Homo sapiens: one gene and its partner. The protein of the gene in region 2 interacts with the protein of the main gene of each other region in a pairwise test. Each region holds a gene or a part of one and is shown on either strand. Other genes may lie near its edges.

What was found.
Region 1: the proteins of ARHGAP1 (region 2) and CHEK2 interact in a two-hybrid assay, tested with the Homo sapiens proteins (one large-scale study listed by BioGRID and IntAct).

Annotation. Positions count from the first base shown.
Region 1 is NC_000022.11:28,724,821-28,728,320, forward strand, and holds part of CHEK2 (serine/threonine-protein kinase Chk2), read right to left. Parts: intron 548-3,500; coding exon 423-547; intron 305-422; coding exon 157-304; intron 104-156; coding exon of another isoform or gene 66-103; intron 1-65. UniProt on the Homo sapiens protein: Serine/threonine-protein kinase which is required for checkpoint-mediated cell cycle arrest, activation of DNA repair and apoptosis in response to the presence of DNA double-strand breaks.
Region 2 is NC_000011.10:46,679,891-46,683,914, forward strand, and holds part of ARHGAP1 (rho GTPase-activating protein 1), read right to left. Parts: intron 2,293-4,024; coding exon 2,161-2,292; intron 1,490-2,160; coding exon 1,403-1,489; intron 1,220-1,402; coding exon 1,121-1,219; intron 858-1,120; coding exon 750-857; intron 674-749; coding exon 597-673; intron 393-596; coding exon 315-392; intron 1-314. UniProt on the Homo sapiens protein: GTPase activator for the Rho, Rac and Cdc42 proteins, converting them to the putatively inactive GDP-bound state. Cdc42 seems to be the preferred substrate.

The DNA of each region.
Region 1 (3,500 bases), on a different chromosome or scaffold from region 2:
CTCCCAAAGTGCTGGGATTACAGGTGTGAGCCACCACGCCCAGCAACTTACTCATCTTTACTCACTTAAACCATATTCTGTAAGGACAGGACAAATTTTCCTCCTATGAGAGAGTGGAAAAAAAAAATTCCAGTAACCATAAGATAATAATATTACCTTTATTTCTGCTTAGTGACAGTGCAATTTCAGAATTGTTATTCAAAGGACGGCGTTTTCCTTTCCCTACAAGCTCTGTATTTACAAAGGTTCCATTGCCACTGTGATCTTCTATGTATGCAATGTAAGAGTTTTTAGGACCCACTTCCTAAAATAGAGAACATTTTGTTTCAGACTTTGAATAGCAGAGATTTATAGTGGGAAAATATCTAAAAACAATGACCAAATTACCAGCTCTCCTAGATACATGGGTATTCATTACCTACCCTGAAAATCCGAAAGTGTTTCTTGCTGTATGTTCGGTATTTATCTGTTCTTTTCAGCAGTGGTTCATCAAAGCAATATTCACAGCTTTTGTCCCTCCCAAACCAGTAGTTGTCATTCACACATTCTGTAATATAAAAGCATGCATCAGAGGGCTGTTGAATTTCATGTATCAAACGTTTAAAAATTGCTCATAAATGCTAATTGTAGGAAAATAGCCTAAGAAGGCAATCAGAATTATCAATCTGCTTATCAAGATTTTACAAGATTAAAAATTAGGAGAGAAAAAACAACATTACCAATGAGTTTAACAAATGGCAGTTTATCTATAACCACATGGCCAGGCACAGTGGCTCACACCTGTAATCTCAGCCCTTTGGAAGGCTAAGGCAGGAGGATCACTTGACCCCAGGAGCTCATGACCAGCCTGGGCAACATAGGGGGCACCCATCTCTACCAAGAATTTAAAAATTAGTCTGGGCAACATGGTGAAACCCTATCTCTACAAAAAATAAAAAATCAGCAGGGTGTGGTGGTGGGTCCCTGTGGTCTCAGCTACTCAGGAGGCTGAGGTGGGAGGATCGCTTGAGCCCAGGAGGTCGAGGCTGCAGTGAGCTGAGACTGCGCCACTGCACACTAGCCTGGGCGACAGAGTGAGACCCAGTTTCAAAAAAAAAAAAATGGCCAGGTGTGGTGGCTCATGCCTGTAATCCCAGCACTTTGGGAGGCTGAGACGAATGGATCACGAGGTCAGGAGTTCAAGACCAGCCTGGCCAAGATGGTGAAACCCTGTCTCTACTAAAAAATACAAAAATTAGCTGGGCGTGGTGGCGGGTGCCTGTAATCCCAGTTACTCGGGAAGCTGAGGCAGAGAATTGCTTGAACCTGGGAGGTGGAGGATGCAGTGAGCCAAGATTGCGCCACTGCACTCCAGCCTGGACGACAAAGCAAGACTCTGTCTGAAAAAAAACAAAAAACAATTAACCAGATGTGGTGGTGCATGCCTGTAGTCCAGCTACTCAGGAGGCTGAAGGAGGAGGATCACTTGAGCAAGATAAGCTGATGCTACAATGGGCTGTGATCCTGCCACTGTACTCCAACCTGGGCAACAGAGCAAGACCCTGTCTCAAAAAAATAAATAAACAAATATTTAATATATATTATATATTTATTTTATATTTATTATATATAATATATATAATTTGTATTTATTATACATGTTATATAAATTTATTTTATAAGTTGTCTTAAATATAATTATATATTTATACACAATATAACATATATTATATATTTATAATATAGTAATTATATCTAAATATATAATAATATATAATATATATTATAATCTATTAATATATGTATTTATATACACAAACACACACATACACATACATATATATATAAAACCGTGAAATAACAAATAGTCATTAAAAGTTCTCGAGTAATTTTTAATGACTTGGAAAATTACTTGCAATACAGTAATTTCCTGCTTATTACCTTCCTGAGGTTTTCCATGACACTTAGCATAAAATCTGCACTCTTCCTCATGGCCTACTAGATGCTCAGGGTCTGGCGTCTGCCACCATTCCAGCCCCACCTCATACCCCTCTCCCCTTGCTCATGACACCCAGCACCACTGGCCTCCTTTCACTGCCCCCAAGAATGCTGGGTTCAATCTGCCTTGTGGTCTTAGCACTTCTTCCCCAACTACACAAATGGCTCATTCCACCTTGCCTTTTGTATAACAGATACTATCTACACAACACTATCTGCCTTTAGGACTCTACTATCATCTCCCACTCAGCTTTCTTTCTTTGAGATGGAGTCTCGCTCTGTCGCCCAGGCTGGAGTGCGGTGGCGCGATCTCGGCTCACTGCAACCTCCACCTCCCAGGTTCAAGCGATTCTCCTGCCTCAGCCTCCCGAGTGGCTGGGACTACAGGCACGTGCCACCATGCCCAGCTAATTTTTTGTAATTTTAGTAGAGACGGGGTTTCGCCATGTTAGACAGGATGGTCTCGATCTCCTGAACTTGTGATCCGCCCGCCTCGGCCTCCCAAAGTGCTGGGATAACAGGCATGCGCCACCACACCCGGCCTCCCGCTCAGCTTGTTATATAAACATTACTCACCTGTTATCATAATGTTATCCTGTTTTATATCTTTTTGGGTATGGGCCACGGCTGGAAATTACCTTGCTTATTTGTATATTTTCTCCCCACCTCCCTGCATTAGAACATAACCTCCAGGAGGGCAGCTGGAGACCTCTTGTTTAACAGTACAACTCCAGCACTTGGGATATTGCACATGGCAGGTAATTAAATGTTCATTGCAAGGCAGACTAGGGAAAATACTAGCAACTCCTATCAGGAAAAGGAATAATTTCCCTAATAAATGTTAGGTTCCTATAAATCAGTGAAAACGCTAAACAGTCCAGTAGAAAAATAGGTAAAGGATATGAAAAGATAATTTACAAGAAACAGAAATACAGCTGGCTCAAACATATGAAAGGTGGCCAAGCTAACCCAATATAAGAAAATTCAGAAATCAAAAACACATTAAGATTTCATGTTTTACCTATTAGATTGGCAAAAATCCAAAAGTTTCATATCACCCTGTGCTGGCAAGAGGTATGAAAAAGCGGGTACTCTCATACATTGCCATTGGGAATATAATTTATACACACATTGTCTATAATTGTCTAGGGAGGACAATTTAGCAAGATCTATCAAAATTACATATGGGCTGGGCACGATGGCTCACACCTGTAATCCCAGTACTTTGGGAGGCCAAGGAAGGAGGATCACTTGAGCCTGAAGGTCGAGGCTGCACTAAGCTGTGGTTGCACCACTCACTCCAGAGTGAGAGTGAGACCCTATCTCTAGAAAGAAAAAGAAAATTAACAAATCCAAATTTAGTTAGTTAAAAAGATCAACAAGTTGGCAAACCTTAGACAGACTGAACAAGAAAAAAAGAGACAAGACTCAAATTACTAAAATTAGAATGAGAGAGATAATTACTACTGATCTGACAGAAATAAAAATGATTTAAAAAGAATAATTGAACAATTGTGTGACAG
Region 2 (4,024 bases):
CCCAGGGGCGCCCTCTGACACCTGCCTCCCTCTTCCTCTGTGATCAGAGAATGCAGGTTCCGGCCATCTGGGGAAGTGGGGCCCGGCACACCCCACCGTTATTCCTTGCCTCTGAATGTGCCTATACCCAGGACCCGGGAGCCCGACCGATGAGGCAGCAGGCCTGGCAGAAGTAGGACTTATGTGACACCCAGAGCCACGGAAACCTCCAGCAGGAAGAGACTCTGAGACTCTCATTTACAGGGCAGCAGAGGGCAGAGAAGCCCCCTACCAGTAACACACATATGGCCCTGCAACAGCCCAGGGCTGCTCACCCATGTTGTACTTCTGCTGCACTTCCCGGACCACTTGGGTGTTGGCCGACCTCCGGAAGATGCCCTCGGTGGTGAGAGCTGGGAAACAGTAGGGCCTGGTGAGCCTCCGAGCGCTGGGCACCGGCTGGATTCCCTGCCCCTTCTCTGTCTTGGGGTTCTAGGCAGGGCTGGGTGGGGACGTTGAGGCTTGCAGGACCTCCCTCTGCCCTGCCCAGCAGCTTCCCCAGCTTCCTGAAGGGAGCCGGGAGACCTGGCTGGTGAGGAGGCAGGCCCGGCACTCACCGTGGGCCTGTAAGTAGGCAACAGTCTCCCTGAGTACAATGGGAATGGGCTCCTGCTCTGGATTCTTCTCCTGGAGGCTGCGGGAAAAAGGCTGGTGAGCCGGGCCTGCAGCCCTTCCCGCCCCGCCGTGGCCCAGCCACCTTTCATACTTACTGCTGCAGCGAGACTCCAAACTGCTGGTTGGGCAGGGGGGGCCGTGGGGGCATGGGCTTGGGGGCTGTCGCGGGGCTCTTCTGTGTGGATTTCAGGAAGTCGTCATATCTGTAGGAGTAGAGGGAGGTGGGTCAGGTCCTGCCTGGCTCTGGAGTCACTCTGCCAATTCAATCAAGCATTGACCACGCGGGGTCAGGAGGATCATCTCATGCGATCTCTGTAACAACTCCGCTTTCCACAGCAGAAAGCAAAGACCTGGGAGAGGTCGGGACACGGGCTTGCTCTGCCTAAGCCCCACGCGGTCTCTGAATCAGGACACACGTCCTCATTACCCTGGCTTCACGAGCCCCCAGCCGCCGCACCCGCCTCACTTGAGCACTTGGCGAGGGATCCCCAGCTGCTCCAGCTTCACGTGCTCGCTCAGCTCGCTCAGGTAATTCACATAGAAGATCTTCTGCCCGAACTTGAAGCTGTTGGTGGAAGAAAGGGCCTGGGTTGTGGGGGCCCGCTTCCGGTGGCCTCCACTCTCCCCTCAACACCCACCCAGTTCAGACGGAAGCCCAGCCGCACCTGGTGGTCCCCAGGCTGCCCAGCCTCCCAGCTTCAGAGTTCCAGGCAAGCCGGGACCACCAGCCCTGCCCGTGGCCACTCACCTGATGAGGGGCTTGAAGAGGATGAGCAGAGTTTTGATGAACATGGTTGGATGCACGATGTACAAGGCCTTGATGTTTTTCTTGTACCTGCAGAGACAGAATGGACAACTCAGGAGCAGGCGTGGTGGGACAGGTGCCACGCTAGGGTCCCAGTGCATACTTTTTTTTTTTGAGACAGAGTCTCCTTCACCCAGGCTGGAGTGTGATCTCAGCTCATTGCAGCCTCCACCTCCCGGATTCAAGCTATTCTCCTGCCTCAGCCTCCTGAGTAACTAGGATTACAGGCACCCACCACCACACCTAGCTAATTTTTGTATTTTTAGCGGAGACAGGGTTTCACCATGTTGGCCAGGCTGGTCTGGAACTCCTGACCTCAAGTGATCCATCCGCCTCAGCTTCCCAAAGTGCTGGGATTACAGGTGTGAGCCACCACACCCTGCCTCAGTGCATATTTTCTGATTTGAACATGCATGGCCAGCATGCGAGGTAAGGGCCATCACTGTCTCATTTTACAGATTAGAAAACAGGAGGCTCAAAGAGGTTAAGTAAAACAAGAGGTCAGAGTGCAAATAAGCTGAGAAACTGGGCCTTACTTAAGCCCAGGGTGATCTGACTGCAGATTCTTTACATTGACGTAGACGGCAGCCCCCGCCACCCCCTGCCTTGGAATAAGCTCCTGCCCAAGTGGAGGGCAGCCCGGAAGCTGGCAGAGCCGCTGCCTCTGGATCTGACTGTGCAGGCCCCATGCCCCAACCCACTTGCGGTCAAACTCCCGGTAGGCATCACGGAGCCAGCTGAGGGAGGGCTTGTTGTCGCTGGTCAGGCCGTGGTGCAGATACAGAAGTGTGTAGTCACTCTCCACGTACTGGTCCAGGGTGTGCTTCAGGTACCTTCCAGGGAAAAGCCCTGCTCAGGCCTGCCCTGTGCACAGGGGCGGCCCCACGAAGACAGAAAGCAGCCCCAAGAGTCTCCCACCACGTCACAGCCCCTTCCCCACAGGCCCTCCCCTAGCACAGTCTGTTCTGGCTCATAATCAGTCACCAGGTTGCTGTGGAGGAGGCCTAGGGTAGAGGCTGGGCAGAGGAATGAGAATAGTAATAACAGCTCTCAGCCGGGCGCAGTGGCTCATGCCTGTAATCCCAACACTTTGGGAGGCCAAGGCGGGTGGATCACCTGAGGTCAGGAGTTCAAGACCAGCCTGGCCAACATGGTGAAACCCCATCTCTACTAAAAATGCAAAAATTAGCCGAGCATGGTGGTGCAGGCCTGTAATCCCAGCTACTCAGGAGGCTGAGGCAGGAGAATCGCTTGAACCCAGGAGGCGGAGGTTTCAGTGAGCAGAGATTGTGGCACTGTACTCCAGCCTGGGCAACAAGAGTGAAACTCTGTCTCAATAATAGTAATAATAATAACAGTTCTCACTCTTGAGCAGGAACTAGATGTCAGGAGACCAGGACCCTAACCCGGGCCTGCCTAGGCCTGCAGTGAAAAGGGGAATGACGTTTCCCCTGAATCAGGGATTTCTCTGAATCAATAATAATGATGACAGTCACCATTTCTCAATATTAAGTTTTTAGTGTCTGCCAAGCACTTCACATACATTAGCTCATACATTGCTTATAACTGAGGCTGATGTAATCCCCATCCTACAAATGAAGGCAATGACCAGAGAGGTCAAGTGCTGATCCAAGGTCACACAGCTTGTGGTAGATCCTGGAAGTGAAGTGTCTAACACCAAAGCCTGCTTTTTTTTTTTTTTTTTTTTTGAGACAGGGTCTTACTGTCACCCAGGCTGGGGCACCGTAGCGCAATCACAGCTCACCGCAGCCTTGACCTCCCAGGCTTAAGCTATCCTCCTGCCTCAGCCTCCTGAGTAGTAGGAACCGCAGGTGTGAGCCACCACACCCGGCTCTTTTTTCTACTTTTTATTTTGTAGAGACAGGTCTCACTATGTTGCCCAGGCTGGTCTTGAGTTCCTGGCCTCAAGCAATCCTCCCACCTCAGCCTCCCAAAGTGCTGGGAGATTACAGGCATGAGTCACTGCACCTGGCCGAAAGCCTGCATTCTTGACCATGGGACAGCTTTGCCTTCTACACATGAACTCCAGTGCCGGCGGTAAAACACTGTGCCCATGAGAGGGGATGGGGTGGCCAGAGAGTCACCTGCTCCAGTCACTGGGCCTTTAGTGGACCAAAGAGCCCCAATTCCTCTGGTTCCCTATTATGCTCATGACACGCTATCTACCAGCTCAGCACAAACATATACACACCTGGTGTTGAGCACACTGAGAGTTATGGATGGAATGAACAAGAACTGGGGAAAGGGAAGGGAGTGTGTGTAAAGCCCTCTCCTTTTTTTTTTTTTTGAGATGGAGTTTTGCTCTTGTTGCCCAGGCTGGAGTGCAGTGGCATGATCTCGGCTCACCAAAACCTCTGCCTCCCAGATTCAAGTGATTCTCCTGACTCAGCCTCCCAAGTAGCTGGGATTATAGGCATGTGCCACCACGCCCAGCTAATTTTGTATTTTCAGTAGAGATGGGGTTTCTCCATGTTCGTCAGGCTGGTCTCCAACTCCCAACCTCAGGTGATCCGCCTGCCTCGGCCTCCCAAAGTGCTGGGATTA